Homo sapiens: one gene and its partner. The protein of the gene in region 2 purifies or fractionates together with the protein of the main gene of each other region. This does not show direct contact. Each region holds a gene or a part of one and is shown on either strand. Other genes may lie near its edges.

Region 1 (3,654 bases), on a different chromosome or scaffold from region 2:
TACACATGCACGCGGCTCACGCGCACTCACGTGTACACATGCACGCGGCTCACGCGCACTCACGTGTACACATGCACGCGGCTCACGCGCACTCACACGTGTACACATGCACGCGGCTCATGCTCACTCACAGGCACTCCTACGCATGCATACATGTGCACACAGCTCAGGCACAGGCACTCGCGCGCATGTGCACACATGCATGCGGCTCACATGCACTCACAGGCACTCGCACACATGCATACACATGCACGCAGCTCACGCACACAGGCACTTGTGTGCATGCGTACACATGCATGTGGCTCACACACACTTGCATGCGTGTGTACACATGCACGCAGCTCACGCACACTCACAGGCACTCCTACTCATGCGTACACATGCACGCGGCTCATACAGGCACTCGCGCGCATGCGTACACATGCATGCAGTTCACGTGCACTCACAGGCACTCGCACACGTGTACACATGCACACAGCTCACGCGCACTCACAAGCACTCCTACACATGCATACACATGCACACACGCATACATGCTCCAACATGCACATGTGCTCATACACGTGCCTGCACACAATACGAGCACTCAGCTCACACAAGGATTCACAAGCACAAGGACTCACAAGCACCAGCACACATGCTCATACCAGCAATCACACACGCCTATGCACATACTCACACCAGCATTTACACACACATGCACACATGTTCACATATGTATGTTAACACACCCATTCCCTCACATGCACACATGCTCAAAGACACATGCACCCACGCTCACATGTGCAGACGCTGCGGTACATGCAGGCACAAGTGCACACACGTCTACCTGGTGCTGGGGACACAAAACAGTGATCACAGCACAGAACAAAAAACATAAGAAAAAGCCCGAAGGTGTCGCCAGCTGTGGAAGGAACGTGGGCCCACCAGGGGCCGCAGTTCCTGCATCACGGGCACCAGTCCAGCCCAGCTCCTAGGCTGTTTCCTGACATAGCCGACGCCCTTGAGCTGGTGCGACCGCAGGGCCAGATGAGCAGCCAGCGTGCTCCTGGGCGTTCAGCTCCTCAGAAGAGCCAGCGCATGGACCCCGCAACGCAGAGGGGCCGCACTCTGGAACATTCCCAGTGTTCCGTGAGCAGAGGCTGCCGGGCCTGTGGGCCGATGTCGGGGCCACCCCCGCACAGACGCGCCCTTGGACAGCCCACCCAGAGGGAGACTTTCTCCCACCACAGGCTGGGACTCACCTGGTCTAAGTCTGAGTAACTAGGGCTTTAACTCAAGGACTGGCTCAGTGAGGCGCCACCACCGAGGTTTCACCCAATTTACAGAGTCCCGGGAACAAGCCAGGAACGCCCCAGAGTGAGGGGCGACATTGCAGCAAGGGAGGGGAGGGCCCAGGCATCTCCTCAGCAGGGCCTTGCCCCCCAGGCGATGAAAGGAAAGGGATCTGCCTGGCTCTGTGGGATGCTGGGCTCATTCCGACTCCCTGGGAGAAGCGGGTGATGCTGTCCCACTGCCTCAGGGGCCCCTGTGGGGCCTGATGACCAGCTGTTCCACCGCAGCCAGGAAGCAAGGGCCGGGGCTGCAGCCTGGAACGAGCGTGCGGCAGGTCCAGGGCTCTGGAGCCTCACACTCACTTAGCGACGGACTGGATGACCTTGGAGGAGGTGTCCTTGAGGTTGGTGAAGAGCCGCTCTGTCCCACCCCGCAGAATGTCCAGGAAGCCGCCATACGGCTGGTCGTACTCCGCCAGCGCCAGGCCTGCAGGGAGACACAGTCTCAGCAGGCCCCAGGTGCTCGGTCCCACCTCCCCAGGTGCGGGTTGCTGGCTGGGCCCAGGCCCCAGGCGCTCGGTCCCACCTCCCCAGGCGCTCGGTCCCACCTCCCCAGGTGCAGGTTGCTGGCTGGGCCCAGGCAGCAGGAGCAGGGAGTGGGTGGTATGGCCAGGCCCCTGACCCACACGTACCCAGCGGGAAGCCAGGCCTCAGCACTGGCAGGTCTACCCTGTCCTCAGCCTTTCCAGAGACCCAGGAAATGGTCAATCTGGGTGCGGAAGGGCTATGTGGCCGCCTCAGCACAGCTGGGGCTGGGACTCTGTCTGTGGGGATAGTCCGGCCTCACGGCCACAGCTTCAGGCCACCATGACCCTGGACGTGAAGGCAGAGTGGTGGCCCCTGGCCTGGTGGGTCCTGCGAGTGAGGTCTTCACAGGCGGCTTTGGTGGCACAAGTGGTGTTAAAAAAAAAACACCTGGCCAAAGTCCCTCATGCAGACAGGAGACCGAGGCCCAGGCAGCACCGAGCAGATGGGGGCACTGCAGAACCCAGCAGCTCGAGGACTCACCCTTCCTCCAGCCAGCAGAGACCCAGCCAGCCACTACACCTGCATGTGTGGGACCCACACTGCACGGACCGGGGTGCCCCAGACATGGAGCTGAGCTCCTCCCTGGGAAGCGGAGGTGAAGGACCCAGGTGAAACCTCCCACACCGCAGTGGGGATGCGGGGCGAGGTCGGGAGGGGTCAGCGCCATGCAGAGCTGCAGACCCAGCCGCTGCCTGTCAGGGCCATGTCCTCGACGGCTCACCCGGAACCTTCTGGAACACTCCCGGCACGGAGTTCCAAGAGCATGCAGCGTCTGTCTCCAGGGCCCTCTCCACTCCTCACCAGCTGAGGGCCCTCCAGGGACACCCAGGCCCATCACAGGTGCCCACTCCTCATGCGGCAGAAGGGGCCACCTCACACTAGCGGCAGAACTGTCTTCCCCCACCGCCCTCCACTGTCCAATGCCTGCTCCTGCCCCCTGGCCTCAGGGTCGCTACTGTAGTAAATGGTTCACCTTGCCCACAGCAGGCCTGGCCCTTCATTCCCAGCTCCTGGGAAGGAACCTGGGATGCCCCCTCCAGCCCCAAAAGGGGTGTCTGTTTCCCTGGGGCCTTGGGCTGTGCCAGACACGACAATGTGATCTATGCTGGGGTCTTGGCCACGGCGCAGGCTGCCTCCCACATAACCCCTGAGCGAGGCCGCCTGGTCACTCGGGCCCGGTCTCCTGGGCCCTGCCCTGGAGCCTCTTCCCTTGGCTGGCTTTAGTCCGAATCCTGACCCCCTCCTGAACTGCACCAAGACACCAGCTTTGCTGAGCTCTGTGAGCCCCAGGGAACTGCCGAACCTGAGGGTGTGCTCAGGGACCCTGACCTCACAGTCATCTCTGGTGGGAGAGGAGGCCCCGGGAGAGAAGGACCCCAGACTCCATCCCAATGTGCTGCGGGTGCCCGGGGTGCAGCAGGAGCGAGGGACAGGTGGCGGGCACAGGACAGGGCACTCACCTCCACTGTAGCCACTGCCAGCGGGGCCCACGGGAGGGGGTGGCCCTCGGGACAGTGTGGCGCTCCCGTAGCCTCCATTCTGCTCCAGGAGCTGTGACAATGAAAATGCAGAGGTCAGTTCTCTAAACTGACAACTCACGCCTGCCCACGTCGGGCAGAGGTACGGTATGGGTGCCCTCAGAGCCCATCCTTCTGCCCCCTGATCTATGACACAGTGCAAGGGAGGAACTTCCCACAGGCTGAAGCATCAGCTGGAACTCAACAAACGCACGCAGCCCTCATCCCCTCACCCCGCGGCCTGCCTCGCTTGGGGCTGTTGCAGGTGCTCAGCA
Region 2 (3,754 bases):
GGCTGGAAGCCTTTCCTCATGATGCTACGGGGAGTACAGTGAAAAGGGAGGAGATTGGGGTAGCAAGGTCCCAGGGGTCCTGGCAGCCCAGGCTCTACTTCTCAGGCTAGCTCAGTCCCTCAAACAGCTTCCTTCACACCCACTGCTGAGACCCAGGAGCCCTACAGAAGGTAGCTAGGGGAAGCTTCAGCAGCTAGGGGGATCCCTGCAGGATCAGCCTCCTCCTTACCTTGCAGACCCCTTGGCTGTGGTCTGGCATTCCTAGTGGCTGGCCTAAAGCCCCAAACCTGGAATCTGTTTCAGAGCCTGGACCTTTTGGACTCACACCTTGGTTTCCCTGGCCAGCTGATTTCAGCTTCTCATCTAAATGTCATTTCTGCAGGCTAAGGGAAGTCCAGCCTGGATCTAGCATCTTGGAAGCGCGTTCAGACTTCTGGATGGAGGGATCAGCAGGCCTTGGTATTGGTGGTTCTACCTGCTTCGGTTAAGAGTGAGGACTCTGGAGCCAGACTCTCTAAATCATAGCACTGACACTTACTATATGACTTGGGCCAGGTTCGTTACCTGTCTGTGCCTCAGTTTTCCTCATCTGTAAAATGGGAGATTAGTGGTCACCATTGGGATGATTAAGAAGATTAAATGAGTTAATGTATGTATAAACTATAGTTATAATGTAAATATATATACAAACAGTAACCATTTACATGCATATAAAACATAATATAAATGTAATATTAGCTATATTCATATATAAAAATAGGTATATTTTATATATAAAATATATTACATTTAATTTTTTACATTTTGCATTAAGATATATTATTTCATATAAAACATTTAAGTACATATACATATAATTATCTATGTAATTATTATTGTTATTGTTGTTATTGTCTACTTTACCTCCCTGCAGGGATGGGGAGACCACGGCAGGCTTTTAAACATTCTTGGTCTCACTGAGCCGTAGGTGAGGAATCCCTGGTTCCTACAGACTCTGCTGTAATATGAGGAGCAGGGTTTAAGTTAGTTTAAAACTGACCCCATCATTTGAAACATTGCAATCTACAATGAATGCCACATAAATATCATTTCTCAGATTCCTATGATGCTCTTCTTTCAGATCTTTTCACTTCAATTTCTATAATAATTTTGTTTGTTTCTTGTCCTATTTCAAAGGCTTTCTTATCTCTGGAGCACCTAGCATAAGATAGAAATGTGTCAAAATATATGTTTTATTCATCATGTGAGTATTTTTAGGTCCTGTTAACCCCCATAACTATTGATTCAGAGAAGTAGGGTGGTTCTGAAAAATACAGGCATAATCTCTTTAACTTGTTTTATAGGAACCAGAATAAGGGTAATGTTTTCCTCTGTCTTCAAAATCATCAATAATCCATGCATTGTTTAACTCATGTCATAAGCAATAATGCCTTTCATATAGCCATTGGCATCAAAGAAGAAACACCCCCTTGATTTGATGGTAAGCGTGACACTACATAAACTCCCAGAAAACCCACTTCCTTTCCAGCAAATAGAAAACAACCGAGAGCCTGAATTCACTGTCAGCTTTGAACACTGAACGCGAGGACTGTTAACTGTTTCTGGCAAACATGAAGTCAGGCCTCTGGTATTTCTTTCTCTTCTGCTTGCGCATTAAAGTTTTAACAGGTAAGTGGTGTATTGAATATTTCTTATTAAGTTATAATTCAAGTAAACATTAAGAAAAAGCAAAGGTAGAAAAATTACGCACCCAAAAGACAGTGGTTTTGGTTTTTGAAAGTAGGAATAGTTTCAGGATATGGCCAAGGGCACCATGTCACTCATGTCACTGTGGATGGCATTGAGTTTGCATTGCTGCCTTTGATACTGTGTCTTGAGATGAAAAACATGTTTCATCAGACCATTAAATTTTTAAATTACCTGCTTGGAGTTACCTGTCAGTGGATAAACTAGCAGAGTGGCTTACTGTTCTTAGAGAAAGATGAAAGGCAAAATGACTTGTGTCAACAGAATGAAAATTAAATAGCTCTGGCATTTGGACTGGGAATTCTTTCTGTGGTAGAAAATAAAATGGGAAGTCTTTGAAAAGAAGGATTTTGATTTTAATCTTACCTGGATGATCTGTTATCTGAAATGTCCAGGGCACCATAGAGTTTTTATTGACACTAAGTATCAGAGTTCACCCTAAAAAGCCAAGGAGGAAAGGATAATGTAAAAATACTTCCTAGCCCCTGTAGACCTTACAAAAAAGATCATTCTGGAGTCCCTGATTCCTTCTCTTGAATGGCATATAGCAGACTCTATATGGACAATTTAAATAATGCTACATACAATGTAAGTTAATACACGTGTTTCTGCTGCTTTTTACTGTATATAATTTGTACTACTTTTGTTTTCTCTTTCACACTGAGCCCTATTCTTGAGGTTGAAAAAAGGAAAGTTAAGTAATATTAAATAACTTAAATAATCAAATAAACTAAAAGTGAAGGCAGAACTTTTAGTAGGTATGATCCTATCTAGGGATACATTTTTTCAGTGGCAAAAAAATAGACCTTACTGTTCTTACAAAAAATGAAAAAAAAATGAAATCAAATTGATCAAATGTTTCATCTTGTGCTGGCTCAAAGTGAGTTAAGTGCAGTTAAGAGGATTGAGGAATGTAGAATGAGCACAAGGACAGTTTTGGGCTACTTGCTGGTTTATGCCTTTTCTAGAATCTCATGAAGTCCTTTAGCGGCATGAATGACATGAGCAGCTTTGGAATTTATATTCATTCTTCATTCATCCATTTACTCATGTAGCATTGAGCACCTGCCTGGTAGCAGGTACTGTGCCAGATGGTGTATGTACAAGGATGAGCAAAACCAGGTCAACCCCTGTTCTTTGGAAGGTAACTGCATGGTAGAGAGAGATATATTAATCAAATAATCCCATTGATTAATGATAATTACAGGCAAAACTCAATTATATGAGGGAATGTAACAAGGAGCTTGACTAGACTGGGTGGGTGTGGAGGTGTAGCTGAGGAGCAGGGTTCATTGAAGTCTTTCCTGTGCAAGTGGCACTTGAGCGGAGATTTCAAGGACAAGGTAGCAATCAATGGGGAGAACGGTATGAAGGTAGGGAAGAACGTTCCATACCATGGAAGGAACAAGTGCAAAGAGCCTGTGGCAGGAAGGAATGAGGTAAGGTTAGGGAACTAGAAGAAAGCAGACAGATGTGCCTGAGCACAAAGAGGGAAGAGGCTGAGCTTGGTCCAAGATGACCAACTGGTCCAAGTTGGTCCAAGGTGAGGCTGGAAAGGAAAGTAGAGGCCAGACCATTCAGACCATATAGTCTATGTTCCAGATTTTGGATATTCTTCCAAGAACGTTGGTACCATTCGTGGAAGGGTTTGTTTGTATTGATAAAAATCATTCAACTAGGCCAAACCAATTTGGGCAGTTCTGGTTGTGGTATTATGCTCAGGAGAATTAAAGTAGCATCGGTGTCAATTCTGTGGAAGGTGAGATCCAGCCTTAGGTAGGATTGTTTTAAGTTTCCAGATTAAGCTGACGAATAATTTGTATTCTGGAACAATATTCATCGTAGATTCTAAATGAATACAACCAATGTTCACTCTCATTATAAAGAAAGCCATGAGATGTGGCATGCTGTTTGGCATGTGGCAAACCTGAGGCACGAGTGGCTAAATGGTAACAATAAATCTGCTAGCAATGATCCTATTTAAAATATCTCCACAATGCATGTATCC

The links. The genes of interacting proteins can lie anywhere in the genome.
Region 1: the proteins of ICOS (region 2) and GAK purify together in Homo sapiens (co-immunoprecipitation; one study listed by IntAct). This does not show direct contact.

What each region holds. Positions count from the first base shown.
Region 1 is NC_000004.12:887,210-890,863, forward strand, and holds part of GAK (cyclin-G-associated kinase), read right to left. Parts: intron 3,414-3,654; coding exon 3,323-3,413; intron 1,762-3,322; coding exon 1,638-1,761; intron 1-1,637. UniProt on the Homo sapiens protein: Associates with cyclin G and CDK5. Seems to act as an auxilin homolog that is involved in the uncoating of clathrin-coated vesicles by Hsc70 in non-neuronal cells. Expression oscillates slightly during the cell cycle, peaking at G1.
Region 2 is NC_000002.12:203,935,205-203,938,958, forward strand, and holds the start of ICOS (inducible T-cell costimulator precursor), read left to right. Parts: upstream 1-1,558; 5' UTR 1,559-1,610; coding exon 1,611-1,668; intron 1,669-1,696; exon of another isoform or gene 1,697-3,754. UniProt on the Homo sapiens protein: Stimulatory receptor expressed in activated or antigen-experienced T-cells that plays an important role in the immune response.